Linked DNA regions of Homo sapiens. The protein of the gene in region 3 purifies or fractionates together with the protein of the main gene of each other region. This does not show direct contact. Each region holds a gene or a part of one and is shown on either strand. Other genes may lie near its edges.

Region 1 (7,610 bases), on a different chromosome or scaffold from region 3:
TCCCTAGATTCTCAGACCTCTCTTGGAGGTTCTGATTCAGGAAGTATGGATTAGAGGCTGGAAATCTGTATCTTTACAAGCACTCCAGGTGGTTGTTATGCTTAATTTCCAGAAACACTGACCCAGCATATCCACCTCTGAAAGTTATTATAAGACCTAATAAGTAATTGTTTCACTAAGAACACATTCATTTTGCTTCACTTTAATTTCATGTTTATGTTAATCTTGTTTTCAGATAGCAAGAATTAGATTCTAAAGAAGTCCTAAAATTATTTATCAGGCTTTAAAGAAAAATGGATGTTTTAATATTAAACATAAAACAAAGTAACTACTGTATTCCCAAATCTGACAGGTATTTCGAGCCTGCTTATGTGCCTTCTAGTGCGATTAGGTGCTTCAGAAGGGGTACCAAAAAAAAGAAACAGCATGATATTCATCTTCATGGAGCTACAATTTAACTGAAGAGACAAAATATTTAGCAATAATAGCTAACAGTTACAGTGCATTTATATGTTAGCCAGTGTTCACCTTACAACCACTTAATTCTTACAATTTCCCTGTGGTTATTTACAGATGATACAGACAGATTATGGGTGATACAGACAGAATTTCAGGTTATTTACAGGTAATACAGGCAGATTACAGGTGATACAGACAGAGTAACCTATCTAAGCTCACTGAGCCAGCAAGTGACAAAGCTAGAAATCAAATTTTCAGTCTCATACTGGTCCATCTTAACCACTACACCCTACTGCTTCATGGTGCTATCATAGGGATTCAGCATCAAGCTATGATCATAAAATGTGGCTCGGGAGAAATAAAGATTCAAAGATGACTAAGAAGCTTCTAGCTTGGACAAATGGAAAAAAGATGGTGTCAGTGACAAAAATTAGAAGAGAGCTAGATCAAGGAGGAAGAAAAGAGGCAAAAGAAGCAACTTTCAGGTTTAGAAATGCAGTATTTGAGGTGATGGTAGAACACTGATAAGAGTTCTATAAGCAACAGAAAATTGTGATTATATGCATATTAATTAGTGTGTATTAATATAATTATTAGAAGCCAGTGACTAAGGCTAGAGATGGGGATTTAGAAATTACATATAAGATTCAACAAAAATTGACTAAGCATCTACTTTTTGCCAGTAGCTCAGTCAACATTATGACATACTTTATTTCATTTAACACTCATAGAACATGTTTTACTATTAGTTTCTGAGGACAGTGACAATGTCTTTTTTCTTTTACTTATTCAGAATTAAGCAAATACTTATTGAGCACCTACCATGTGCCAGGCTCTAGGAATATAATGAGAAACAAGAAAAACACAATTCCTGCTCCCACAGACCATAGACTGGCATAAAGATTCTCAACCTCTCCTGAGTACTGTAATCATCTGTGAAGGGATGTTACAGACAGAGGCACCCCAACCCGATGCATTAATTCTGGACCTAATTAGTGTTTTCCATAGTGAGGCCCAGTTATGTTTAATTTTTTCAGGACTTCACAGGCAATTCTGAGACTGAAGGTTAAGAATCACTGCTAAAGCAGGTGTCTTCACCAGCATATCTCTGTACCTAATGTAGCTGCTGGGCACACAGTAGGTACTCAATATATATTTGCCTATCAATGAAAAAAGAATACATTACTGTTACCATTTAAGAGTTAAGGAGACTGAGGGTGAGAGAAGTTACCTTGCCCAGAGATCTACACAGCCAGTAGTAGAGCTAGGATTCAAATGAAGGTCTTCTGAGACAACCAATCCCATCAACCAAATGTAGTGGCTAAGAGGAAAGGGATCATAGATAATATAAAAGAGGAGGCTGCAGCACTGTGTGCCACAGAGGTCTGGAGTCTGGAAGCCAAGGGTGATGGGAGTCAGATGGAACAGGTCTTTTCAAAAGAGCCAATTCCCATTCACTGTCTCCACTCCCTCACCTGTTAGCTGTTGTTTTATTTTTGCACTTTTGGTATGATCTACTTCAATATTCAAAAAAGTACAGAGAATAATAAACACCCATGTATCTACCAACAAGATTTATTTTCTGGCCGGGCGCGGTGGCTCACGCTTGTAATCCCAGCACTTTGGGAGGCCGAGGTGGGCGGATTACGAGGTCAGGAGATCGAGACCATCTTGGCTAAGAGGGTGAAACCCCATCTCTACTAAAAATACAAAAAATTAACTGGGCGTGGTGGCGGGCGCCTGTAGTCCCAGCTACTCAGGAGGCTGAGGCAGGAGAATGGTGTGAACCCAGGAGGCGGAGCTTGCAGTGAGCCAAGATCATGCCACTGCACTCCAGCCTGGGCAACAGAGCAAGACTCTGTCTCAAAAAAAAAAAATTATTTTCTCCGTATTTGACATACTTGCCATAATTTTCAGTATTTTTAAAGAAATATTATATCCTTCTGTTACCAATGGAGGGTCTTGCCTATGAGTCCTCCAGGTTCTTGGCATTTTTAACAAAGAATTGGACAAAATGCACAAAGCAATGAAAAAATGAAGCAATGAAAGCACAGATTTATTGAAATGAAAAGATACTCCACAGAGTGGGAGCAGGCTCAAGCAAGCCACTCAAGTGCATTGGTTACAGAATTTTCTAGGGTTTAAATACCCTCTAAGGTTTCCCACTGGTTACTCGGTTACACCCTATGTAAATGAAGACTTGGCCCACCACCAGTCTGGTGGAGGGAGGCGACCAATTAGAGGCTGAAGCAAAGCTACAAAGTTACACATGAAGACTTGGCCTGGGACCAGTCTGATTGGTTGTAGGAGGGGACCAGTCAGAGGTACTTTCCATTTTTTATCTGTAATACAGTGCAAAGGGAGTAGCCTCTGATCCTTTTGTTACTTGGGTGTAGAGAGGTGGAGTTCTCCTTTTGATTCAGTTCTAGGAAGTCACTGTGAATCGGCCTTAGGTTCCCTGCCTCCAGACCCTATTCTCCTGCTTCAGTATCACTAGCAAAGAAATTGGTAGGCTGGAGGGTATGCCTACCTTAGCTTCACTACATGTTCTTCAGAGTGGCCCAACCAACTTACATTTCCAAAAACATGTGTTAGAATTCCCACTGTTGCCCAGGCATGGTGGCTGATACCTGCAATACCAGCAGTTTGGGAGGCCAAGGTGGGAGGACTACTTGAGCCCAGGAGTTCAAGATCAGCCTGAGCAACATAGTGAGACCCCCATCTCTACAAAAAATAAAAAAAAATTAGCTGGGCGTGGTGTCTATAATCCCAGCTACTTAGGAGGCTGAGGAAGAAGAATCACTTGAGCCCAGGAGTTTGAGACTGCACTGAGCTATGATCATGCTACTGCACTCCAGTCTGGGAAGACAGGGTGAGACTTGTCTTTTTTTTTTTTTTTTGGAGATGGAATCTTGCTTTGTCACCCAGACTGGAGTACTGTGGCACAATCTCGGGTCACTGCAGCCTCCACTTCCCAGGTTCAAGCTATTCTCGTGCCTCAACCTCCCAAGTAGCTGGGATTACAGGCATGTGCCAGCACACCTTGTTTATTCTATTATTAGTAGAGATGGGGTTTTGTTATGCTAGCTTTTAAAATTCCTCTTGAAAATATGTTGTAGTTTTTGGTGCAAAGGTTCTGCACATTTTTTGTTAACTGTTTTCCTAAGTAAGTATGCCTTTTGATGCTATGGTAAATGCAACTGTTTTTTAAAATTGTCATTGTTTTCAATTGTTTGCTGTTAATATATAGAAATAAAGTTTTTGTAAATTTACCTTATATCCTCATAACTTACTAAACTTATTAGTTCTAGCAGTTTTTTTGTTCATTCCCTAGTATTTTCTATGTAAGCAAATATGTCACCTAAGAATGGTTACTTTTATCTTTCCAATTTTTGTATTTTATATCTTTTTTCTTGCCTTGTTGCACTGGTTAGGACCTGCAATAAAACGTTGGCGGTTGTGAGTGGCAATCTTTTCTTTTTCCTGATTTTATAAGGAAAGCATTGTCTTTCATCATTAAGTATGATGTTAGCTATGTTTTTTATAGCTGACATTTATTAGGTTAAGAAGTTCTCTTCTATTCCTAGTTTGCTCACACGTTTTGTTGTGTTTTTGTTTTTGGAGACAGGGTCTCAGGTCTCACTCTGTCACCTAGACTGGAGTTCCATTAATACACTATATTTAACATTAAAAAATTATTCCTTTATGCAGTACAAAAGCAAAGATATTATTTTTCCTAAGCTACATCTTGTTTCACCAGTGAAAAGAAACATAACACAAATTTTAAAACTATTTATTTTGAGACCGAGCCTCACTCTGTTGCCCAGGCTGGAGTGCAAGGGCGTGATCTCGGCTCACTGCAACCTCCTCCTCCCCGGTTCAAGAGATTCTCATGACTCAGCCTGCCGAGTAGCTGGGATCCTCAGGTGAACCGCCCGCCTCGGCCTCCCAAAGTGCTGGAATTACAGGCATGAGCCACCTCTCCCGGCCTAAAACTTATTTTTAAAATTTCTTTAGTTCTTGTGTTCAATTTCATTTCTGTCAAATTTTACACTAATTCACAAAGCCTTTTAGTGTCTTCTGCTTTTAATTTTTTAAAAATTTGTTTTGTTTTAAAACATTCTTAGTAAATAAAATTTGAAAAATATTTGAAAAAAGGAAGAAGAAAAGTAAGTCCTACTGTCCAAATTAATTTCTTTCTAGTCTCATTTTCTTTTCTTTCTTTTTTTTTTTTTTTTGGAGACAGGGTCTCGCTCTGTTGCCCAGGCTGCAGTGCAGTGGTGATATCATAACTTGCTCCAACCTTGAACTCCAGTACCTAGGACTACAGGCACGCATCACCATGCCCGGCTAACTTTTTTTTTTTGGTAGAGATGAGGCCTTGCTATGTTGCCCAGGCTGGCCTTGAACTCCTGTCCTCAAGGGATCCTCCTGCCTTGGCCTCCCAAAGCACTGGGATTACAAGCATAAGCCACTGAGCCTGGCCCTAGTCTCATTTTCCATATATAGCTTTTTCCTTTTTTCATTTTTTAATATAGTTATGCACCACATAACAATGTTTCAGTCAATGATGAACCATATATATCATGGTGGCCCCATAATCTTATAACAAAGCTGTCCTAGACAGGTGTACCTTTTAAAAAATCTTTTACACCATATTTTTAGTGTCTTTTCTATGTTTAGATACATGTAGGTAAATGTCTTAAAATTGCCTGCGGTATTCAGTATTGTAACATGCTGTACAGGTATGTAGCCTAGAAGCAACGGGCCACACCACATAGCCTAGGTGTGTAGCTGGCTTTACTGTGTAGTAGGTTTGGGTTTGTACAACAACAAAATCACCAAATGGATTTGTCAGAACCTATCTCTGTCCTTAACTGATGCATGACTGTAACTGAAATCATGCTGCATATATAATTTTACATATGTTTTATTTAACATTTTATCCCAATGATTTATTTTTTTTTGAGACACAATTTCACTCTGTCACCCAGGCTGGAGTGCAGTGGCCGGTATTGGCTCACTGCAACCTCTGCCTCCCAGGTTCATGCGATTCTTCTGCCTCAGCCTCCCTAGTAGCTGGGACTACAGGCGAGTGCCACCACGCCCAGCTAATTTTTATATTTTTAGTAGACACAGGGTTTCACCATATTGGCCAGGCTGGTCTCGAACTCCTGACCTCGTGATCCGCCCACTTTGGCCTCCCAAAGTGCTGGGATTATAGGCGTGAGCCACCGCACCCAGCCCAATTTTTTCTATTATTAGTAGAGATGGAGCTTCACTATGTTAGCCAGGCTCATCTCGAACTCCTGACCTCAAGTGATCCACGTGCCTCGGCCTCCCAAAGTGCTGGGATTATAGATGTGAGCCACCGTGCCAGGCCCCAAAGATTTTGTTTATAAGCATACTAAATGTTAAAGCCTATTTATTTATTTATTTTTGAGACAGAGTCTCACTCTCACCCCCGGAGTGCAGTGGTGCCATCTTGACTCACTGCAGCCTCGACCACCTGGGCTCAGGCGATCCTCCCACGTCAGCCTCTCAAATAGCTGAACTACAGGTGCGCACTACCACACCTGGCTAATTTTTGTATTTTTTGGTGAGACAGGGTTTTGCTATGTTTCCCTGGCTGGTTTCAAACTCCTGAGCTTAAGTGATCTACCCACCTCAGCCTCCAAATGTGCTGGGATTACAGGCATGAGCCACTGTGCCCTATCTTTAAAGCTAATTTTAAAAGTGTCTACATGTCACATTGCTAGTTAACTTATACTGTATACTACTTTGTACTAAAAGGTTAATACAGATTACATGTGATGATTCTAATTTCATATCATCACTCACCTGCTATTCGATCTTAGGCAAAATACTTAACCTAAACGTTGATTTCTCATCGGTAAAATGGGGTTAACAAAGAACATACGGCCAGGCGCAGTGGCTCATGCCTGTAATCCCAGTGCTTTGGGAGGCCAAGGTGGGCGGATTACCTGACATCAAGAGTTCGAGACCAGCCTGGCCAACATGATGAAACCCCGTCTCTACTAAAAATACAAAAATTAGCCAGGCATGGTGGCACACATCTGTAATCCCAGCTACTCGGGAGGCTGAGGCAGGAGAACTGCTTGAGCCCAGGAGGCGGAGGTTGCAGTGAGCCGAGATCGTGCCACTGCACTCCAGCCTGGCTGACACAGCAAGACTCTGTCTCAAAATAAAACAAACAAACAAAAAAACCACCATACATTATAGGGTTACTGCGAAAATTTAATATATGTAATGTTTTTAGTATGGCACCTAGTACACAGTGAGTATTCAACAAATGTTAGAGATTTCATTCATGTAATATAATCTTGTAGATTTTGATTGTCTGCCAGTGGCAAAGCTAAAAAAAAAAAAAAGTGAAAAAATGGAAAAGGAAATCAGTCAATCTCAACTATCAGTCTCAATCACTCACTGGTGAATGAAGTACATAGATCAGAGATCAGGTGTCACCTGCAGATGTGTTTTATTTGGCCTGCATGACGTTTAAACATTTTTAAAATGCGTATAAATATGAAATTGCCAATATTTTACTGCTTTTATTTTTTTAGTTTTTGAGACAGAGTCTCGCCCTGTCGCCCAGGCTGGAGTGCAATGGTACTATCTCGGCTCACTGCAACCTCCACCTCCCGGGTTCAAGCGATTCTCCTGTCTCCGCCTCCCGAGTAGCTGGGATCACAGGCACGCACCACCATGCCTGGTGAATTTTTTGTATCTTTAGTAGAGACGGTGTTTTACCATGTTGGCCAGGCTGGTCTCAAACTCCTAATTTCGTGATCTGCCCACCTCGGCCTCCCAAAGTGCTGGGATTATAGGCGTGAGCCACCACGCCCGGCCACAGCTTTTATTTTTTTAGACTCTCTAAAGGTCTCTCTGTCACCCAGGCTGGAGTACAGTGATGTGATCATCGTTCACTGTAACCTTGACCTCCCGGGCTCAAGTGACCTCCCGGGCTCCCACCTCAGCTTTCCCAGTAATTGGGACTACAGGTGTCATACACCAGGCTACATTTTATAGCTTTCTTTTATTTATTTATTTTTTGAGACAGAGTCTCACTCTGTCGCCCAGGCTGGAGTGCAGTGGCCTGATCTCGGCTCACTGCCAACCTCCACCTCTGG
Region 2 (7,610 bases), on a different chromosome or scaffold from region 3:
CAGGCACAATTTTAATCTTTAAGAAATCTGGTGGGCTTTTAATACCAAGTGAGTTCCATAGTGGCATATTTAACTCTTAAAACATTTGCTAGAGTAGATACCTTTTCTAGAGTAGATTGAGGAAATGGAATGTATGTCAAAAATAGCTTAGTTGGGTAAAATTACTGCTATATAATATAAAAACTGATTTTCAAATCATAAAATTGCTACTATATGTGGGATCTTTTGTGATATAACTCTAATTGCATGGCTAATTAAAAAGAGAATATATGTGATATTTTAACAGAGACGTGATTGGCAGCAGATGGCTGATTAAGGAGGAACTAGAAGAAATGTTAGTGGAAAAACTGTCAGATCTAGATGTGAGTAATTAATCTTTTTAATTTAAGGGGACCTATGCAATAAGAATACAGACAATTGCTGTATTTAGGATCCTAATAGTAATGTTCCTCAGAGGCAGGTGTTCCTACGATGACTTTTCTTTCTTTCTTTAAAAACAAAACAAAACAAAACAAAAAAACAAAACACATTCATCATTGATTTCTGCCTTGGGAGGACCTTATTTGTGGTCAGGGAGGTGACTTGTCGAGTCTCCAAGTCCTCCTCTTGTAAGTGCCCTCATATCCTGTGCCAGTTGTTTTAGGGAAGCACGGCAGATGTTGTTTCATCTCCTTACGTAAGGCCAGTAGCTAATTTTACAAGCTGATGATAAGTGTAAGGAGTCATTATAGGTTAAGTAGAAAAGGGATGCAGCACATGGTTACCTTCATGCAGTTTACTGCTTACCTTGTGTGCCATATCTGTAAGGTCAGTGGTTTTTATCTTGGGATCTGCAAACCACCTCTGTCGGAATCCCTTGAAATGCTGGTTACAAACTACAGTGTCCTAAGCCTCACCCTAGATCTAGCTCAGAATCTCTAGGGAGTTACCGAGGAATCTTTTTAACCAACTTTCCAGGCGAATCTTATACCCTATAAAGTTTGTGACCCCCTGCTTTAGGTCTTAATTGCATTCTTATTTTGTTAAATGTTCTAATATATCAACATTTTCACAGGACAGTTGATGTCTTAAACATTTTGATGTTCCAAATTTATTACTTTCTGGAAGATTGGGGTGTAGATAAATTTCACAAATTTTTCCAAGATGGAGATTTTCTTTGATGGCGGTGGCTAACATTGTTAGTACTTTGCCACCATATATAGATTTTAAGTCATGTACTTGAATTGTTCTTTTTCTCATTTAATGTATTATAGAAATTAATGATTTGGAAAAGTTGCAGTTTGCTTAAACAAAGTGTCAGACAATTGGTTAGTGGTAGATCCAGAGTTAATTTCTAATATCCTAACTGCCAAGTACTGCTCTACTTGAATCTAACTGAAAAATCTCTTTGCTTCTTCACTGAACAAGTAATTTCATTATTTCCTCTGTTTCTGGCTGCTTTGATTTTTTTTTAATAATTCAGGTATTTTTTCTGCTTTGTAATATCCCACGGACTTTAATACAGGTGTACAGCTATGAAAACAAAAGAAACAAGTTATATATGATACTTTGTACTTTGGGGTACTGGATATCAGAAGAAATCCTAATGTTTATGGCTGGTATCAAGATGAGGGATGTGGAGGTGGTCAGTGACTTCTTGACCTAGTTCAGAAGCAAGGCTGAGTTCCACCCATAGTGCCCCTTTGTAGGTGCAGAAGTCATTGAGAGTCTGTGAGATGCAATCAAGAGAGTAGCTGAGCACAGAACGCCCAGGCCAGTGACTGGAGAGGAGCATGGAGCTCTGCCCACCCAATATCCTAGGTAGCTGAGTATTTCACCCTTACTAGAAGAGTGCCTTCTCTTTCATTACATCATAGGAAGCTGTAGTCAAAGTAGTTCTTTTAATATTAATCTTACTGGTGAGATTTTTAAAAATTTCAAACTATTAATGGCAGATTTTTACAATAAAGGCAGTAGTGACAAAGATGAGTGTGATGTTTAACGCCGACAAAAAACATAAATAAGGTTATAAAAAACTGAGTTTCACAATCCATATTAACTAAGAATCTCAAGCATTAGTTGTTTCCTTCTCCATAAACACTTTAGAGTGATTATTCTGGCTTCTAATTTTAAGGGGTTAATTCCAAGTTGTTTACTTTCTAATCACATGTTCAAGAACTATTAAAAAAAATGCACAGAGGAGCAAGGATAATTTATTTCAAGAGGTTGCCCTTTAAGTCAAGTATCTCTTGAATTTTTAAATAGCTTGATTGTTCGGTTTTAAAGGAAATCATAAACATTAAAGTAACACAGCTTGAACAGCCAAAGATATATTTGCCAAATGTATTATGAAATATAATTTAAGAGGTACATTTTCTCAAAATCAAACTCTTTCCATATTACTATACATAACTTACTTGAAATTATTTATAAAGCTCCCCTTGATACAGTTCTAATAAAAGAGAGCAAATTACACTTGAAGATCATCTAAATACTTTTTGAAAGTGAATTTAAATCTCAATTTCATAAACATAATACAGAGAAATTGATTTTTCTTTGAATGATAAATCTCTTTGTTTCTTGAAAGAAAAGATTTGGCACTAAAGATACGCAGGAAAAGTGATGCATCTGCATGCTGTTTTAAAAGCAGCGTGAAGATGCAGAAGTGTCATCCTGTCAAAATTCATCAGGAAAAGCAACATTGGAAAGATCAAGTATGCAAAAAATAGAAAAAATTTAGCAAATGCAATTACACTTGCACCTTCTAATGAATTTTTATTGTCTGCAGTATATGCAGTTCATTCGGCTGCTAGAAAAGTTATTGACATCGCAGTGTGGTGCTGCTGAGGAAGAATTTGTGCAGAGGTTTCGAAGAAGTGTAACTCTTGAATCAAAAAAACAGCTGATTGAACCTGTACAGTATGATGAGCAAGGAATGGCCTTTAGCAAAAGTGAAGGTAATGACATTCTGTGGAGAGAAAATAAATTCAGTGAAGGTTGAAAAACTACAATTATTTTTATTTGCTATTGCTTTCTGGTATCCATTAGATTTTTTATTTGTTTATTTTTGCTACCGTTACTTTGGATTTCCTAATTTTTAAGATTCTGTTGAAGTTTTTCAAAACTGAACTGTATAATATCCTAAGAAAAAAATGTGGATGCATACCTATACAGTCATATTAACACTTTTTCTTTTCACACATTTATATTGTTGAATCTTTTAATTTTCACATTTTAAGCTGCTAGAATCGGTAAAATATTTATAATAAAGTTTTCTTTGCAAAAAATGAAAATGCTCAATGAATCTGCATATCAAATGCCAAAACTATGTAATGTGAAAACTTCACGTCCTTAACTCACATTTTTCTTGTTCAGAGCCATTAGACGTAGTCCAACTTTTACGACTTGAACTATTAAAATATTTACAACTCTTAAAAGATTTCACGTCATTGTCATTTTTAACTACTGTGGTGTTTTCAAAGAAATGTGACCTTTCCTGAGTATTTTTTTATTTCTACTAGTTATATTTCATCATACTATTTATATATTTCTAAAACTTATGTTGTTAGATATATTCTTACTGTTTATAAAAGAAGAATGCTATGTAAATTGGTTGTGGATTCTCGTAAGGGAAATGAATATAAATTACTTTGTTGGTTGTTCAAACTAATTTAAAATCATTGTAGTGTTTCTAAAATGGAATTGAAGAACAAAATTACCCCACAATGAGCTTTATTGCATCTGTTGTGCTGTAGTTTACCTGCTTTATTTTTGTTTGACTTGAAATAATAGTTATAGGACTTGCTTATGTACAGTGTTGTGTATTATTTTGGGGAAACAAATTTTAATGTAGTTTTACCTGTCTCAAAGCGCAGGTCTTCAAGATATTTACTAATAGGAATTTTATATTTTTGAAGGTAAAAGAAAGACTGCAAAAGCAGAAGCAATTGTTTATAAACATGGAAGTGGAAGAATAAAAGTAAATGGAATTGATTACCAGCTTTACTTCCCGATCACACAGGACAGGTTCGTTTTGGGTTCTGATTTTTTGTTTTTAAAGGAAACATACTTTATAATACATCATGATCATTTAAGAAGGCTTGTGATCTTCTAATTCTGTTTATCTGAATGATTATTTCTCTTTACCAATGTAACATATCAAACTAGCTAATTGAAGCTATTTTTTAAAGCAGCTTCCAGATTTTTTAAAAAGCATCTCTAGAATTCCTCATTAATTGACTCTTCTTCCCCTTTTCATCAGATCCTACTGCAGTTTGAGTAGTCTTAGATGTAGCTTATGTTCTGAAGTGCAGACTGTGCCAAAATGTAAAAAATTTTGATTTAGATTTCCACCTTCTAGTTTGGGGATGGGCGTGCACAAAACAAAACCACCACCACAACAACCAGCCTTGGCACTTAAAACTGACCTAACTCACAAGGCAAAGAAAAGTGCAAGTAATTTCTTGTGGCTTGTGTATGTTTTTCTGATCATAAATATTAGAAAAATTCTGCTTTATCATTTTGGATTTTTTCCTATTCAGAGGAATGTGATTATATATATTGAGCAAGCAAAGAAACCTAGCATTTATGGGTTAAAATAAGAACTCATCAGGCTTTGCTTAGTTCTGGGTGCTAAATATGGCAGTTTTAATTTTTAAACTTTGTATCCTATGGAGAAATAGACATTAATCATAAATAGATACTACAGCTCTTCTAATCTAAATATACTCATCTCAGAACTCTCTCTGACTTGCTATATAAAGGCCTCTTCTTGATATGGTTATTATTTTCCCAGTACTTACTGTCATTATCCACGAGTAACAGAAGTTTGGTATGATTAGTTCCTCCTTTCCTAATCCTTCTCCTGTTTCCTGCATGTGTTACGGTATTTAAGGTCAAAAGGGCTAAAACTCTTTTGATACCAATGCTGATATAGGCAAAAGAGGACCCTCCTAATACAGTGTAAGCTTCTGGACACAATAATTATTTTAGGAAATGTGTGTTTATTTTATTTGTGTGTGCCTGTGTCAACAAGCAGTGCATTCTTAACTCCATTTAAGATGAATTAGTTCTGCTATTATCCTCACAGGACAGGGGATGGAAGAAGCTTTTATTTCCCTTAGGAAAAGCCAGAGAGAAACCCATACCCCAGGGTTTGATAACTTCAACATTGGGAACTATAGGAGGACTGTTCTTTAACCAATAACCTGTCTGTTGATTTGTATTCAGACATAACTCCTGATGATTTAACAGCAAGTCTCAATTCTGGCTTGATCTCATAATGAAATTACATCTTTAGATCTTATTCTTTGGTTTGAATTCAGCAGCTTTTTACTAAGGACATCTATGTCTCCAGTCTTGTTCTGGGCATTGTGAAGATATCAGAGATATTTAAGATATGATTCCTATTGTCAAGAAACTTCCTACATGGTTGGGAAGCCTAAGCCTAGTCTTGGTGGGAATGGGCACCTACAACTATTTTAAAGTAGTTGTAAGGATTTAGGGCAGTCACTTCAGGAACTTACAAATCAGCAGTGAGGTGACCATTGACTAATAGGAAGACTAACCAACCCAGAATCAGGGATCTTGATCGGAATTCTGTCATCACCTAACACACAGTGAAGTGGGTTAGCCACGTAAGTGAAGTTACAAGGGAGGCTTCTGGACAGCCATTTGTTTGGGAGCTTAAACACTTTCCTGGCTTAATTTTTAAAATTTTATGATTCTTTAACAAATGCTTATATAAATAAAAAGAGACTTCAATTAAAATCTAGAAAAATAGATTTCATAATGTAATTACTGGATATATAACTGAGTCATGGAGCCAGATGGTCGAGGTAAATGCAATAGTGGAATTAGATTTTCAGTCTGTACATTTTTTTTTTCTTTTTTTTTTTTTTTTGAGATGGAGTTTCGCTCTTGTTGCCCAGGCTGGAGTACAGTGGTGCAATCTTGGCTCACCACAACCTCCGCCTCCTGGGTTCAAGCAATTCTCCTGCCTCAGCCTCCTGAGTAGCTGGGATTACAGGCATGCACCACCATGCCTGGCTAGTTTTGTATTTTTAGTAGAGACGGCGTTTCTCCATGTTGGTCAGACTGGTCTCAAACTCCCGACCTCAGGTGATCTGCCCGCCTCGGCCTCCCAAAGTGCTGGGATTACAGGCATGAGCCACTGCGCCCAGCCTAAATTTTCTTTTATATTTACTTTTTTTTTTTAAGAGACAAGGTCTCTTTATGTCACCCAGGCTGGACTCAAACTTCTGGACCCAGACTGGACTCAAGCTGCTGGGCTCAAGCAGTCCTCCCACCTCAGCCTCCTGAGTAGCTTGTACTTTAGGTGCTCAGCTTAAATTTTCTTTAGTTATCATAGTATATTAATAGATACTACTTATAATACTGTTTTTATAACTTATGGCTACTTTTCATTTGGTTTCTTGGAAGCATTTGTTCAAAAAGACAGTATAGATTTATGAGTTTTTTGTTGTTGTAGGAGTTATGTCATCCCTACATCGTATTGTTATAAATTCCGATTTGCTATGGCTTTTGAAAGTCATCTTTTGCCCATCTGCTTGTGATTATTTTACTAGTGTGGTATGAAGAATAGCACTTGAATGTCCTGTCCATACCTGTCTCTCAGCTTAACTGTGTTATATAAACTTGATTTTGGGTCTAGAAGCTACAGCATCAAAGAAAGCAAACGCAATATAAGTGAGCTTTTCTGCATAAAAGTGTAGCAAGATATTAAGGCAAAATAGCAAAATCAAAGTGCTTGACAGAGGTAATGGTGAACATCTTACCTGGCGTGAAAATGATATTCAACAAATACTTGTTCAGTTGAGCAGGAGAAAGTCCAGGGCCGTGTTTTGTCTGTGGTGCCTGCCCCAGGATCTTGTAGGCCCTGACCGACCCTGAAAGAGCAGGCCTGACAGGGGTTGTGTAGAATGTCACCTGGCCCCAGGAAGGTAGCAGGACCCTATGATTTAGAGAACTTTAAGAATATTGGGAATAGGTGTTTGGTGTCAGGGAAGTGCAAGGTCGAAAATAGTTTTAGAAACTTTAAAAACTAACCATATCAAGATGAGCATTATACATTATACAGATACACTTATAGTAGACTTTATTTAGTGAATCCAAATGACATGTGATAATTGTTTGGAAAGGCCTATTGATTTTATATCTGATCATTCAATCCAGAGACATTAAATTCAGTTGATTAATGGAGTTCCCCAACTGTAAGACTTCTTTACGAGATTATTTTCAAGCTTTGAAAAGATCTTCTGAGATAAAGGGGATCAGCAAACAGTAAGAGTGTGTTGCTATACCCAAGCAAAAGAAATAAATCTTAATCTCTCAGCAAATCATTCAAAATGTCAGAAATGTTAGTGTTTCTATATCTTGGTAAAATGGATTGATTGAGAAGTATGAAAAGTATAACAGTGGCATGCAGAATATTGTTTTTATGAATATTCAGAATTTCAGTTGTTTACATAATTATGTATCTTTATAGTAAACGTAACCACATTTACTTGTGCTGTGCTTTAGAGAACAGCTGATGTTCCCTTTCCACTTTGTTGACCGGCTGGGAAAGCACGACGTGACCTGCACAGTCTCAGGGGGCGGGAGGTCAGCGC
Region 3 (7,916 bases):
TGAGATCAGTATGGATGTGATAGGGGAGTGGCTCCAGGACTTAAGAACACAGTAACCCACACAAGGAAATGTGTTTTATATCGTAATTGTGTGCATATATGTCCATAAATCCTTAGGCACACCCAGATACAACTCCAGTGGAAACAGCTGTCTCATGAAACAATATTTAACATGACACTTTCGGATATTTTCAATTATATTTTTTTTTTATGCTGATTGCAACCTACTCATGATTCACAACCCACAGGTTGAAAACCCACTTAGTGCACACAGACGTGCCAGGGCTGCGAATCGCACAAAGGGAACGATCACAACAAACGGCTACCTTTTGTGAAGCACTTATGACAGGGCTGGGCACTGTGCCAGGTGACTCACATGGATTAACCACTTTCACCCTCATACCAATCCCACAAGGCAGGTGCCACCATCAGCAACCCCCAGTTCACTGATGGAGAAAGGGAAGCAGGCAAGGTGAAGGAGCCTGCCCAAGCTCCTCAGCCGCTCAGCAGTGGGGCTGGTCTTTGCAGCACCCCGGAAGCAGGGAATGAAGGGTCCAAAGGGAAGGAGCCCCAGCAGTGGGGTACCCACAACATGGGCCAGCACTGAGCAACCCCGACAAGCCAGTCTGCCCCCACGCCCCTTCTTCCCAGGGCTGGCAGTGGGATACCCATGACATGGGCCAGCACTGAGCAACCCTGACAAGCTGGTCTGCCCCCACGCCCCTTCCTCCCAGGGCTGAGACTGGGACCCACCTCAGGTGGGGTCAGCCCGAGCAGCCGGGCCCCCGAGAGGTCCAGGTCACTGATGGTGGTCACGGTGACTGTGTGGTTGGGGTGGTCATACTGCACCGACTCCGTCTTTGCTGTCACCAACCGGTCCAGCTCATCTGCCTCCTCTGTGGGGGTGGACACAGACCTGGTCTCAGTCACGGGAACGAGTGACCAGGCTCCAGCCTCCCTCCCGCCCTGGAGTGCAGTGCCCCCTCTACTCTGTGGACGTGGAGCGCATCCACAAGGTCACTGGCTGTAGAGCCTGGTCTGTGGATGAATGTTGTGAATGATCCCGTTTCCTTCATGCTCTAGCTGGTCCCCATGTCAGACAAACCCTCTGTGACAGCTACTGCTGTCCCTCCCCTCCACCCCTAGTCCTTTCCATCCTTAAAAACTGGGCTCTCTTCTCAGGCTTGGTTAACCATGGGGTTTGGGACTCCTTCTCCTGGTCTCTGTTCCACTTGCACTTAGAGGTGCTTAGGACCACCCCTGGCCCCAGGGTACCCCCCAAGATCCCTAGGGCCAAGGAGGTCAGCTTCTATCCCTTCCACCCACCAAGGGTATAAACCAGGCCCATCAGCTGTTCTCCAGGTCAGGCCAAGCATGCCACTTACCCAGAGCCTCTTCTCTCTCTGCCAGCATCTTCAAGTATTCCTGGTGGCGCTGAAACCACACAGGCAGGGAACACAGTGAGTATGGCCTCTCAGTCCAACCTCAGGCTGGGGTATTAATCACCCCCAGGGTGAGGGAGACCATGATCCATACTGCAAGATCAGGAGGAGACTCCATCTTCCATCACTCCCAGACCCGGGCCCACAGAGTCTCCACCTGTATAAACTATTCCCCAGTCCTGCCCACACACACATCGCCCCATGCCAGCAGCTGCCTCTATTAGGGAAATCCAAGGCTGCAAGTGCCCTAAGAATCAAAGACCTCCCTCCCACCTTCCCCCTGCGTACCTCCTCCCGAAGCTTCCTCTGCTCCTCTTTCAGCCGCTGCTTAATCTCCTCAATGGCTGCCTTCTTTCGCTCGACCTTCCGCTTGTGGAAGCCTGTCAGGTACTCCCTACAGGAAGGAAGCCGGCAGAGACAGGAGAGTCATTATACAAGGAGAGAAGGGCTCGCTCTAGGAGAAAAATGGCTAATGCCGCGCTCACTATGTGCTAGGCACCATTCCAAAAAAGTGTAAGTATTAGCTCATTTAACCTTCACAACAATGGCCAGGCATGGTGGCTCACGCCTGTAATCCCAGTACTTTGGAAGGTCGAGGTGGGAAGATCACATGACGCCAGGAGTTCAAGACCAGCCTGGCAAACATGGTGAAACTCCGTGTCTACTAAAAACACAAAAATTAGCTGGGCTTGGTGGCGCATGCCTGCAGTCCCAGCTACTTGGGAGGCTGAGCGGGGAGAATTGCTTGAACCTGGGAGGCGGAGGTTGCAGTGAGCCGAGATCATGCCACTGCACTCCAGCCTGGACGACACAGACTCCATCTCAAAAACAAACAAAAAACCCTCACAATAACCTGTGCGGTGGGTATCAATCTCCATTTTACAGATGGGAACGTTGAGTCACAGAGTCTAGGTTACTTGCCCAAGGTTAGAGAAAGGATACATTTAGGAAAATAAGGGAGATACTGCCTCTTTCCACTCAATACTCTCCAGGGATCTCAGGTTCAGGCAACAGGGCCAGGCTGTGGGGCGGGTGGGGGGGGGGGCCACACACAGTACATGAGGTAACCCCTTCCACACCTACAAACCTCATTACTCTCTCAACAGGGTTTTCAGGGCCACCACCATCCAGACCTTCGGAAACCCTGCACTGGACCAACACCCATGTCCCCAGGACACCTGACCCTAAACTCGCCTGTAGGGCCTGTTGATGCACGCTAGGAGTTTCCTGATGATGCCCAGCATTTCCCTACCTCCTTCCCTCGGTCTAATCTCAGCCCCTTCTCATCTCCACAGTGCTAGCTGCTCTGTTCCCATTTTGTCCCACGGTCCAGCACTGGGCTTTTCGCTGACCCGCTACCATGTGCCATTTATTTATCTGGCCAGACGCTGAGGCTCAGAGGTTCTGCTTCCTGATACGGGACCTGGCACACCAAAGGAGCCCAATAAATGTCTAGGGAGCGAATGAATGAACTTAAGCCACTCTCATTTCATTGGCTCATCATTTATCAACCACGGCTGGGCGCCTGCTGTGTGCCGGACCGATGGACTGGGCTGGGCTAGGGTGGTCGAAGCCACTGCTCTGAGACCCGAGCTTCCGGCTATCTGGCGGCGCACAGACACTAGGCGAGGTGGGGAGGTCAAGAAGGGAGAAGGTGGCGGCCGAGAAGGGAGAAGCGGGAACGCGGGCTGGAAGGCCGAGAGGGGTTCTCTAGCCACGCCAGGGGGCGGGACCGGAAGAGCCCCCGGCGGGAGCGTGCTCGGCCCCAGACCTGGCCTTGGCCGCGAAGAACAGCTCGAGGGGAGTCCGGTCCGGCTTTGCCACTCACCGCCTCTTCTCCTCGTCGAAGCTAAGAACGAGCCTCGGCCGCCGGTCGTCACCATCTCGCTTCTTCTTCTTGTTGCGGCCCATAGCAGTGAGGCCGCCGGCTTCCTCTCCCTGAAGACACTTCCGGGTGTAGCGTACTCATCCTCCCGGGCGCACACTTTAGCGTCGCACCGAAGTTCCGTCCACCAGGCCCAGCCTTTTAAAGGGACCTCCCAGCTCCTTTTCTTCCCTCTTCCCATGCATGACGCGCTGGTCCCTGATCTCTCCGTGACTCCCAGCTCCAGCCCCTCCCCAGCCTCGCTTCAATGAGAGCGAGGTCCCCTGGACCCCACTGCCTAGGACTGTGCCTGGCACACACTCAATATGGAGTTACTCGTGAATGGCCCAAATTTCCTGTACTAACCCTACTTTGGATATTTTTTTCCTTTAATTTATTATTATTGCTTTTGAGATGGAGTCTCGCTCTGTCGTCCAGGCTGGAGTTCAGTGGCGGATGTCGGTTCATTGCAATCCCTGCCTCCCAGGTTCAAGCAATTCTCCGCCTCAGCCTCCTGAGTAACTGGGATTACAGGTGTGCGCCACCATACTCCCTAATTTTTGCATTTTTAGTAGAGACAAGTTTTCACCATGTTGACCAGACTGCTTGAACTCCTGACCGCAAGTGGTCCTCCCATCTCGGCCTCCCAAAGTGCCGGGATTACAGGCGTGAGCCACCGTGCTGGCCCCTACTTTAGATGCTGATGTCAACTCGTTGGTAGTCTCCAAGAGGGAGCCAAACTGCCTGGATTTGTATACTGGCATCACACCTACAGCTGTGTGGTCCCAGACCAATGGTCTTCGCGGTGCCTCACCCTATTTGTAAAATAAGGGAAAGTATAGTAGCTTCGTAGGGTTGTTGTAGACACTGGTTCTGGAACTTTGGCATACATCAGAATCCCCTAGAGGGCTAAAAACCTGGATCGCTGGGCCCCACCCCGGAGTTTCTGATCCGATAGAGGTTTCTGAGTGGATTTCCGTTTCTAGCAGGTTCTCAGGTGATGCTAATGCTGCTGGTCCGTGGACTAAACCTTGACAGCTGTGATTGTGAGGAAGTTAATTATGTAAAGTTTGTCTAACATAAGGCACGCATACATGTGTTTTCTGCACAAGCCATCTTCCCTCTTTGTGCCTCACTTTGCCCAAAGGTGGAATGAGTGTATAATAACATCCTTGACTGAGAATGAGGGCATGGTTGTGAAAGATTGCAGTGAAACAACGCCTGAAGGGGATTTTTAGTCACTTGGATTGTATGCCAGAATCCTTCATCCGCTTTTTTTTTTTTTTTTTCTGAGACAGAGTTTCGCTCTTGTCACCCAGGCTGGAGTGCAGTGTTGTGATCTCGGCTCACTGCAGTCTCCGCCTCCCAGGTTCAAGCAATTCTCCTGCCTCAGCCTCCTGAGTAGCTAGGATTACTGGCACCTGCCAGCACGCCCAGCTGATCTTTGTACCCTGACTCTGAGTTTTGGAAGGAGGCAGGCAGTAAGTGCAGCACTCCAGAATGCTGAATTCATTCCATACAGCTCCTCTGCTTGGGAAATCTATGTGGGATCCTGAGAGGAAGTTACCTTTTTTTTTTTGAGACGGAGTTTCACTCTTGTTGCCCAGGCTGGAGTGCAATGGCACGATCTCGGCTCACTGCAACCTCCGCCTCCCAGGTTCAAGCGATTCTCCTTCCTTAGCCTCCCTAGTAGCTGGGATTATAGGCATGTGCCACCATGCCCGGCTAATTTTGTATTTTTAGTAGAGATGGGGTTTCTCCGTGTTGGTCAGGCTGGTCTCAAACTCCTGACCTCAGGTGATCCACCCACCTCGGCCTCCCAAAGTGCTGGGATTACAGGCGTGAGCCACCGCGCCCAGCTGGAAGTTACCCTTAAACTACAGGCCTGGCCTTTCAGTTCTGTGGCCCAGAGCAATGCAGGGGGCTCCCTTAGGGTGCTGGACTGCACCTCTGACCAGCTGCTTCTGCCCCTTAGTGGCAGTGCCTTAAAGCCACCCTTGGCACCTTCCTGGGTAGAGGCATCACCCTGGCTGAAGGTGCCCAGAGAGTCACCTTCTGCAGCTGGTCTGTCTCCTCCCAGTCCCAGGCTTCGACCTGCTTGGTTTGCCAGGGCTCCACTCCCACCCAGAGTGGTTGGAGATGAAAAGTGAAGGCTCAAGCCGGGCGCGGTGACTCACACCTGTAATCCCAGCACTTTGGAAGGCTGAGGCGGGAGGATCACGAGGTCAAGAGATCGAGACCATCCTGGCCAACATGGTGAAACCCCATGTCTACTAAAAATACAAAAATTAGCTGGGCATGGTGGCACACGCCTGTAGTCCCAGCTACTTGGGAGGCTGAGGCAGAAGAATCACTTGAACCCGGGAGGGTTGCAGTGAGCCGAGATTGCGCTGCTGCACCCCAGCCTGGCGACAGACAGTAGAGCAACATAGTAAGACCCTGTCTCTACAAAAAATTAAAAATTAGCCAGGCGTGGTGACATACTCCTATAGTCCAGCGACTTGGGAGGCTGAGGTGGGAGGATCACTCAAGCTCAGAAGTTTGAGGCTGCACTGCAGCTGTGATCATGCCACTGCATTCCACCCTGGGTGACAGAGTGAGACCCCATCTCTGAAAAAAAAAAAGAAAAAAAAAAAAAACAGGCCAGGCGCAGTGGCTCATGCCTGTAATCCTAGCATTTTGGGAGGCCAAGGTGGGTGGATCAATTGAGGTTCGGAGTTCCAGACCAGCCTGACCAACATGATGAAACCCCATCTCTATTAAAAATATGACAATTAGCCGGGCGTGGTGGTGCATGCCTGTAATCCCAGCTACTCGAGAGGCTGAGCTACTCGAGTAATCACTTGAACCCAGGAGACAGAGGTTGCAGTGAGCCGAGATCCCGCCACTTCACTCTAGCCTGGTCAAAAGAGCAAAACTCTGTCTCAAAACAAAAAACAAAAACAATAAGAAAAGAAGTGATGATAAACTTAATGAGGAAAAAGAGTAACAAGAGCAGCTGACATTTATTTAGCTCTTTACTCTCTTTAGATTATTGATTTTATTATTTATTTATTTATTTATTTATAGAGATGAGGGTCTCACTATGTTGCCCAAGCTGGTCTCAAACTCCTGGGCTCAAGCGATCCTCCCCATTCAGCTTCAGGAGTAGCTGGAACCACAGGTGCCCACCACTGTGCCTGGCTTATGATGATCTCTTTTGAGGTACAATCCACATTTTACTGAGGAGGAAACTGAGGCTCAGAGAGGTGCAGTCACTTGTCTGAGGTCACACAGGCAAAAACAGGTGCTGAGGGTGGGGCGCAGGTGGCCTAAGGACAGAGATTGACTTAACTTATCTGGACCTAGTTTCCTAGGCCCTTGGGACACACCAAGCCTTAAAAGGGGTGAAGGGAACCAACACTCACCGAGCCCCTATTGCGTGCCAGGCACCATGCATTTCTATACATCACCTCAGCTAATCTTTTTTTTTTTTTTTTTTTTTTGAGACGGAGTCTTGCTGTGTCGCCCAGGCTGGAATGCAGTGGCATGATCTCGGTTCACTGCAACCTCCTCTTCCCGGGATCAAGTGATTTTCCTGCCTCAGCCTCCCCAGTAGCTGGGACTACAGGCATGCACCACCATGCCCGGCTAATTTTTGTATTTTTAGTAAAGACGGGGTTTCACTTGTTGGCCAGGCTGGTCTCAAACTCCTGACCTCAAATGAATCTCCTGCCTCAGCCTCCCAAAGTGCTGGGATTACGGGTGTGACCCACCACACCCAGCCAATACTAGTGCAGTCTTTTTTTTTTTTTGAGATGGAGTCTCGCTCTGTCACCCAGGCTGGAGTGCAATGGCGCAATATCGGCTCACTGCAACCTCTGCCTTCCGGGCTCAGGCGATTCTCCTGCCTTAGCCTCTTGAGTAGCTGGGATTACAGGCACGCGCCACTGCGCCCGGCTAATTTTTTTTTTTTTTTTTTTTTTGAGACGGAGTCTCGCTCTGTCGCCCAGGCTGGAGTGCAGTGGCGGGATCTCGGCTCACTGCAAGCTCCGCCTCCCGGGTTCACGCCATTCTCCTGCCTCAGCCTACCAAGTAGCTGGGATTACAGGCATGCACCACCATGCCCGGCTAATTTTTTATATTTTTAGTAGAGACGGGGTTTCTCCATGTTGGTCAGGCTGGTCTCGAACTCCCGACCTCAGGTGATCCACCCGCCTCGGCCTCCCAAAGTGCTGGGATTTACAGACGTGAGCCACCATGCCCGGCCTAATTTTTGTATTTTTAGTAGAGACGGGGTTTCGCCATGTTGCCCGGGCTGGTCTCGAACTCCTGACCTTAGGTCATCCACCCACCTCGGCCTCCCAAAGTGCTGGGATTACAGGCGTGGGCCAGCGTGCCTGGCCAACTAGTGCAGTCTTAACAAAGTTTGCCAGATGAGGAAACTGAGGTTCAGAGACGTTGAATAACTGGTCCAAGGGCACACAGCCACAGAGCTGGGGTTTAAACACAGGTCTGTCTGACGCTGAGCCGGGCTTCCTTCCTCCACACCCAGTGGCCTCTCTTACCTGCCCCAGGACTTTCCTCTGCCCGGTTGTGGCCCCAGTCCTAGTGTCCTGTGAGTGTCAGCCA
Region 4 (7,610 bases), on a different chromosome or scaffold from region 3:
TCGGATCACTTGAGGTCAGGAGTTCGAGACCAGCGTGGCCAATGTGGTGAAACCCTGTCTCTACTAAAAATACAAAAGTTTGCCAGGTGTGATGGCTTTCGCCTGTAGTCCCAGCTACTCGGGAGGCTGAGGCTGGAGAATCACTTGAATCCGGGAGGTGGAGGCTGCAGTGAGCTGAGATGCAGCCACTGCACTCCAGCCTGGGCAACAAAGACTTTCTCTCAAAGAAAATAAATAAATAAAAATGAAATAAATAGGCCGGGCATGGTGGCTCAAGCCTGTAATCCCAGCACTTTGGGAGGCCAAGGTGGGTGGATCACCTGAGGTCAGGAGTTCCAGACCAGCCTAGCCAACATGGCCATCTCTACTAAAAATACAAAAAATTAGCTGGCTGTGGTGGCAGGCACCTGTAATCCCAAATACTTGGGAGGCTGAGGCAGAAGAATTGCTTGAACCCAGGAGGCAGAGGTCGCAGTGAACTGACATCACACCATTGCACTCCAGCCTGGGCAACAGAGGGAGACTCTGTCTCAAATAATAATAACAATAAATAATAAAATAAATAAAAATAAGCCAGGCACGGTGGCTCATGCCTGTAATCCCAGCACTCTGGGAAGCCGAGGCAGTGGATCATCTGAGGTCAGGAGTTCGAGACCAGCCTGGCCAACATGGTGAAACTCCATCTCTACTAAAAATACAAAAAATTAACCAGGCGTGGTGGTGGATGCCTGTAATTCCAGCTACTCGGGAGGCTGAGGCAGGAAAATCTCGTGAACCGGGGAGGCGGAGGTTGGAGTGAGCAGAGATGGTGCCATTGCACTCCAGCCTTGGCAACAAGAGTGAAACTCTGTCTCAAAAATAAATATATAAATAAAAATAAAAACATTTTTTAAAAAGTAAAGAGGGCTGGGTGCGGTGGCTCATGCCTGTAATCCAAGCACTTTGGGAAGCCAAGGTGGGTGGATCACTTGAGGTCAGGAGTTCAAGACCAGCCTGGCCAACATGGTGAAATCCTCTCTCTACTAAAAATACAAAAATGAGCCAGATGTAGTGGCGGGCGCCTATAATTCCAGCTACTCGGGAAGCTGAGGCAGGAGAACCGCTTGAACCCGGGAGGCGGAGGTTGCAGTGAGCAGATATTGTGCCATTGCACTCCAGCCTGGGGGACAGAGTAAGACTCCGTCTCAAAAAAAGGGCCGGGCGCGGTGGCTCACACCTGTAATCCCAGCACTCTGGGAGGCCGAGGCGGGCGGATCACGAGGTCAATAGATCGAGACCATCCTGGCCAACATGGTGAAACCCCATCTCTACTAAAAATACAAAAATTAGCCGGGATTGGGCCGGGTGCAGTGGCTCACGCCTGTAATCCCAGCACTCTGGGAGGCCGAGGCAGGTGGATCACGAGGTCAGGAGATTGAGACCATCCTGGCTAACACAGTGAGACCCTGTCTCTACTAAAAATACAAAAAATTAGCCGGGCGTGGTGGCGGGCACCTGTAGTCCCAGCTACTCAGGAGGCTAAGGCAGGAGAATGGCATGAACCCGGGAGGCGGAGCTTGCAGTGAGCCAGGATTGTGCCACTGCACTCCAGCCTGGGTGACGGAGTGAGACTCCGTCTCAAAAAAAAAAAAAAAAAAAAAATAGCCGGGCGTGGTGGCGGGCACCTGTAGTCCCAGCTACTTAGGAGGCTGAGGCAGGAGAACTGCTTGATAGATAATCATGAGATTCCGTCAAAAAATAATAATAATAATAAAGAGTAGATAGAGAATGATTATCAGGGGTAAAGATAGCATTGAGAAAGGTAGTCATTCAGTGCTCCTTGGTTGGTTAAAAAAGGAAAAAATTTGGAATATTAAAAGGGGGGAAGAAAAGGAAAGGTGGTCAAGAAAGCTCTTTTTGAGGAGGTGACTGGGAGCTGAGATCCAAATAACACCAAAAAAGACAGCTACACAAAGATCGTGGGAGAAGAGTGGCTCAGACAGAGGGAACTGCTAGTGCCACTGCCCTGAGGTGGGAAGGAATTTAGCTCTTTGAGGAGAAGAAAGGAGGCCTCTGTGGGTAGAGCCCAGTGGGCCAGGGAGAGGAGTGGGAGGTGAGGTAGGCAGGTGTGTGTGTGTGTGTGTGTGTGTGTGTGTGTGTGTGTATTTTTAGTAGAGATGGGGTTTCACCATGTTGGCCAGGCTGGTCTCAAACTCCTGGCCTCAAGTGATCTGCCCAGGTAGGCAGGATTTAGATGGTTTGGGGCTATGCTGGCCATGGAAAAGATATTGGTCTTTTTCCTGGGAGCAGTGGGAAGTCTCATGATTCAACCTGGGGGAGAGAATGGAGACTTGGGTTCGAGTCTGGCTCCTTGACCAGCTGTGTGTCCTTGTGTACAGTTTTTCCTTTGTGGGGACCTTAATCTCAATATCTGAAAAAGAGGTGTAGTGAACACTTAAAATGCTCCTCTCCTGAGAGCTCGTGGAGACCTAAGGATGTGTGTTTGGTTCTTAAGTATTGGTTGGGCAGGCACGGTGGCTCACGCCTGTAATCCCAGCACTTTGGGAGGCTGCGGTGGGAGGATCACTTGAGCCCAGGAGTTCTAGACCAGCCCAGGCAACATAGCAAGACTTCATCTCTACTAAAAATAAAATAAAAATTAGCCAGGCATGATGGTGCATGCCTGTAGTCCCAGCTACTTGGGAGGCTGAAGTGGGAGGATTGCTTGAGTCTGGGAAGTCAAGGCTGCAGTAAGCCATGACTGCACCACTGCACTCCAGCCTGAGCGACAGAGTGAGATCTTGTTTCAAAACCAAACAAACAAAAGTATTGGCTGGAATGATCCAGAGTGTATTTAAAATACAGATTCCTGAGGCCTACCTCAAGCTCTTTAATAAAAAAAAAAAAAAAAGTCTGGGCGTGGTGGCTCTCGCCTGTAATCCCAGCACTTTGGGAGGCCGAGGCGGTCGGATCACGAGGTCAGGAGATTGAGACCATCCTGGCTAACACAGTGAAACCCCGTCTCTACTAAAAATACAAAAAACTAGCCAGGTGTGGTGGCAGGTGCCTGTAGTCCCAGCTACTCAGGAGGCGGAGGTTGCAGTGAACCAAGATCGCGCCACTGCACTCCAGCCTGGGCAACAGAGTAAGACTCCATCTCAAAAATTATATATATATATATATATATATATATTTTTTTTTTTTTTTTTTTTAATGGTGGGATGTTAGACAGAGACCTAGCCTACCTGGCCTCTTTGTGTAGCTGGGCGCATGCTGAGACCAACCTGGCACTCCCCTACCTTTTCCCCTGGGAAGTGCCATGGGAGGAGGGATTTCCCCTCCAGCTACCTGGTGTCTAACTCACAGATAGGAAGGCTGAGACCCAGAGCTGGCAAGAGGCAGTAGAAGGGCCAGAGCTCAGAACCACTGGGTCAAGCCCTCTGAGAGGGAAGCAGAGACATAAAGGGTGCCGGCCAGGGTCTCAGGGCAGTTCTGCAAGGATGAGAGAAGACACAGGTATGACCTGAGCTCAGGGTTCTGGTCACTGTGGGGCTGGCGGAGGCAGCAGACAAGCGTAAGAGGCCCCAGACCACTGAGCAAGACCCCAGCAACTTAAGGCAAATTAAACACCTGGACTGAAGTCCCAGCTGCTTAGGTTACCCATTGTGGGACCATGGGCAAGTCACTTAACTCTTGGAACCTCGATTTATTCCTCTGTAAAGTAGGGACAAGAATCCCTATCTCAGAAAGGTATAAGACATTAAATTAAATAAACCAGCACACCCAGCAATGTGTCTGGCTCTAAGAAGACGCTTTGATAATTGAGGACAGTAATTATTTTTGACTCATTCATTCCTCACCCAACTCTGTCAGGTAAGTACTGTCATTATCTCCATTTTTCAGATTAGAAAACTGAGGTTCTAAGACATGCAGTACATTACACACGGTCACATCAGCTGGGAAGTGATGGAGGCAAAATCTGAAGCCAGACAGTTTGGCTTCAGGGACTGGGCACTTAACAAAATACTGAACCATTTCTCTGGACCTTGGTTCCCTTATCTGTGAAAATGGAATAATAGAACTTTCCTCATGGGGTTGCCATGAAGGGTAACTGAGCTAATACACATAAGGAGTTTAGGATACTGCCTGGTATTTGGCGAGTGCTCAGTAAATGTGAACTATCTTTTTTATCATTTATTTATTTATTTATTTTTGAGATGGGGTCTCACTCTGTTGCCAGGCTGGAGTGCAGTGGCACCATCTTGGCTTACTGCAACCTCAGTCTCCTTAGGCTCAAGCATTTCTCCTACCTCAGCCTTCTGGAGTAGCTGGGAGTACAGGCATGCTCCACCATGCCTGGCTAATTTTTGTATTTTTTGTAGAAATGGGATTTTGCTATATCGCCCAGGCTGGTCTTGAACTCCTGGGCTCAAGGGATCCACCCGCCTTGTCTTGAACTCCTGGGCTCAAGCGATCCACCCGCCTTGGTCTCCCAAAGTGCTAGTGTGAGCCACTGAACCTGGCCCAAGCTATCATTTTTATTAAGGAGGAACATTATCAGGCAGACTCTCCAGAAACCGTCTGGAAGAGGTAGTGAGTACCTCATCCAGAAATAGGGAGGGATCCCTTGGAAACTGTAGGAAGAATTCAAGTCATCAGAAAGGTTAGAATTCAGTCCCTTTAACTTATCTTCAAGCCCCAGGATTGATTATTGATTGATTGATTGATTGAGACAGTGTCTTGCCCTGTCTCCCAGGCTGGAGTGCAGTGGTACAGCCTTGAACTCCTGGGCTCAAGCAGTCCTCCCACCCCAGCCTCTCAAGTAGGCAGTACTACAGGCACATGCCACCACATCTGCTAATTTTTATTTTTAGTAGAGATGGGGTCTCACCAGGTTGCCCAGGCTGGAGCGCAGTGGTACGATCATAGTTCCCTGCAGCCTCGAACCCCTGGGTTCACAGGATCCTCCCGCCTCAGCCTCCCACGTAGCTGGGACTTAAGGCGCATGCCACCACACCTGGCTAAGCCCTAGGATTTAGTGGGAAAAGTGAAATAACCAAGTGAGAATAAGATGGAGTTTTGTGGGATTGGGGCCAAACCCAAAGGGGAGATGCTTGAGGATCCTCCTGGTGGAAGTGGGGCTCCAGTGAAGGACTTGTCAGATTTGGAACAAGCAGGAAGGACCTGGGGATTTGCATGGTGTGGTGGAAGCCATGGAAAGTTCTTGAGCAGGGAACAGGAAACATCATTCATTACTTTTGGGAGAAGACCGGCTGCATGGGGTTGGGGAGGGAGGGCAGCGTGCAGGCCTGAGGCCGGGATTTCAGGCAGAAGGGTGCTGACTTTAAGGATGTGGCCCTTGCCACGCGTCAGGGGCTCCTGTGTCCTCCCTGGGTCAACCAGGTAAGCTGCTTCTCCCGCCCTTTCCTGGCATAAGGGGCCCTGAGTCTCTGTATTTCCCCTAGCACCCTCGTGGCTCAGCTCAGTTTCCTCCTCCTGAACCCCAGTGTCATAACTTAGAAGCCACCAACCCCTAACGTGTCCAGATGAGGAAATAGTCTTTTTATTTTTTTTTTTTTGAGACGGAGTCTTGCTCTGTCGCCCAGGCTGGAGTGCGGTGGCACGATCTTGGCTCACTGCAAGCTCCGCCTCCCAGGTTCACACCATTCTCCTGCCTCAGCCTCCCGAGTAGCTGGGACTACAGGCGCCCGCCACCACGCCCGGCTAATTTTTTTGTATTTTCAGTAGAGACGGGGTTTCACTGTGTTAGCCAGGATGGTCTCGGTCTCCTGACCTCGTGATCCGCCCCCCTCGGCCTCCCAAAGTGCTGGGATTACAGGCGTGAGCCACCACGCCCAGCCGGGCGGAAATAGTCTTATAAACAACACTCATTTCACTGAGGTCTCATAGTAATCCACAGGGCTGCAAGTAGAACGTAGGCCCCCTAGCCTCTGGGCACACCTGGCTCCCTGCAGCCCCCACTCCTCAGACCCCTTCCCCCAGCAGCAGCTGCTGAGCACTCCTTAAGTGGATCTGCCATAATCCTCTTCCCTTCATCCCCCAGGGAGGATGAGCTGGTGTTAAGACTAATACAGCCATTAATCCTGTTTCCTCCCAACCATGATCCCCAGGAGCAGCTGGGTGGAGGGCGTCTGGGTTCTGGACCAGAAAGTAGGGATCTCAGCTAGAGCTGGTATCCCAGGAGGCCATGTTAGATCAGATACATCAGTTATGACTCAGAAAGAGGCTTCCAGCTGCTAGCAATGGCTCAGGCTGCCTTGAGTGATTCTCCATTACCAGAGTTGTGGGAACAGGCCAACAAGATTCCAGAGCAGAGAGTGGACAGATTCCAGTCTGGGGCGGAGGCCCGTACAGCTGTGCAAGGCCAGAATTCTGTGTGAACAGTTGCTGTCTCTGAGGACTAACCATCCAGAGGAGGAAAGAAAACACAAATGCTGGGGACCTGTCACTTCCAGACAGTGCCAGCTACCAGATTTAGCCCATTGGCTCAGCCCTTTTCTGGTCCCAGGTCTGTCTTTTCTGGGCGCTTGGAGACCTTCAGGCCAGGCCCACGTCTGGGTACACTCTTTATCCTGGCATAGTTCTTGGACACTGAGCTGAAGAAGGAAGATGGTGAGACAGATGGAACCTGGGCCTCTGGGAATGCCACAGTGTTTGGAAAAGCCCGTTGGGGGCGGGGGGGGACGTGTAGGTGAATCTTTTGTGACCCTCAGCCTCCTTTCTTAGTGGCTCTGCGGACACTTGGTCCAACTCCTTTCTTCAATGAGCAGATCAGGGAGGAAACGAACGCAGGATGTCAGAGCCAGGAATGCTGGGCAGGAAGGATGTGTGGGTTCCGAGGTGAGAAATGCAGATGAGATAGGGTTCTCTCTGAGGCTTTCAGGAGTGGCGAAGGTATGTGGCTTTGGTCTAACTTTGCTTCTCTTGCAGAGAAACCCCGTTCACCAAGGCCATGGAAGTGGAGGCTGCAGAGGCCCGGTCCCCAGCCCCCGGCTACAAGCGCTCGGGCCGCCGCTACAAGTGCCTGTCCTGTACCAAGACATTTCCAAACGCGCCCAGGGCAGCGCGCCACGCTGCCACACATGGGCCGGCAGACTGCTCTGAAGAGGTGGCCGAGGTGAAGCCAAAGCCAGAGACAGAAGCTAAGGCAGAGGAAGCCAGTGGGGAGAAGGTGTCAGGCTCCGCGGCCAAGCCTAGGCCCTATGCGTGTCCGCTATGCCCCAAGGCCTACAAGACGGCACCCGAGCTGCGCAGCCACGGGCGCAGCCACACGGGGGAGAAGCCCTTTCCGTGCCCCGAGTGCGGCCGCCGCTTCATGCAGCCCGTGTGCCTGCGCGTGCACCTGGCCTCGCACGCTGGCGAACTGCCCTTCCGCTGTGCGCACTGCCCGAAGGCCTATGGCGCGCTCTCCAAGCTCAAGATCCACCAGCGTGGCCACACAGGCGAGCGGCCTTACGCCTGCGCCGACTGCGGCAAGAGCTTTGCTGACCCTTCAGTGTTCCGCAAGCACCGGCGTACTCACGCTGGCCTGCGGCCCTACAGCTGTGAGCGTTGCGGCAAAGCCTATGCGGAGCTCAAGGACCTCCGCAACCATGAGCGGTGAGGGTGCC

Evidence for each region.
Region 1: the proteins of NOL12 (region 3) and SRSF12 purify together in Homo sapiens (affinity purification with mass spectrometry; 3 studies listed by BioGRID and IntAct, with this or other methods). This does not show direct contact.
Region 2: the proteins of NOL12 (region 3) and MRPS9 purify together in Homo sapiens (affinity purification with mass spectrometry; 4 studies listed by BioGRID and IntAct, with this or other methods). This does not show direct contact.
Region 4: the proteins of NOL12 (region 3) and ZNF668 purify together in Homo sapiens (affinity purification with mass spectrometry; 3 studies listed by BioGRID and IntAct, with this or other methods). This does not show direct contact.

Annotation. Positions count from the first base shown.
Region 1 is NC_000006.12:89,107,767-89,115,376, forward strand, and holds part of SRSF12 (serine/arginine-rich splicing factor 12), read right to left. Parts: intron 1-7,610. UniProt on the Homo sapiens protein: Splicing factor that seems to antagonize SR proteins in pre-mRNA splicing regulation.
Region 2 is NC_000002.12:105,089,634-105,097,243, forward strand, and holds part of MRPS9 (small ribosomal subunit protein uS9m), read left to right. Parts: exon of another isoform or gene 1-286; coding exon 287-362; intron 363-2,767; coding exon 2,768-2,936; intron 2,937-3,896; coding exon 3,897-4,005; intron 4,006-7,418; exon of another isoform or gene 7,419-7,521; coding exon 7,522-7,610.
Region 3 is NC_000022.11:37,681,829-37,689,744, reverse strand, and holds the start of NOL12 (nucleolar protein 12), read right to left. Parts: upstream 3,403-7,916; 5' UTR 3,353-3,402; coding exon 3,270-3,352; intron 1,836-3,269; coding exon 1,730-1,835; intron 1,434-1,729; coding exon 1,385-1,433; intron 896-1,384; coding exon 753-895; intron 1-752. UniProt on the Homo sapiens protein: Multifunctional RNA binding protein that plays a role in RNA metabolism and DNA maintenance. Participates in the resolution of DNA stress and the maintenance of genome integrity by localizing to sites of DNA insults.
Region 4 is NC_000016.10:31,063,802-31,071,411, reverse strand, and holds part of ZNF668 (zinc finger protein 668), read left to right. Parts: intron 1-6,382; exon of another isoform or gene 6,383-6,612; intron 6,613-6,726; exon of another isoform or gene 6,727-6,793; coding exon of another isoform or gene 6,794-6,840; intron 6,841-6,930; coding exon of another isoform or gene 6,931-6,952; coding exon 6,953-7,599; intron 7,600-7,610. UniProt on the Homo sapiens protein: May be involved in transcriptional regulation. May play a role in DNA repair process.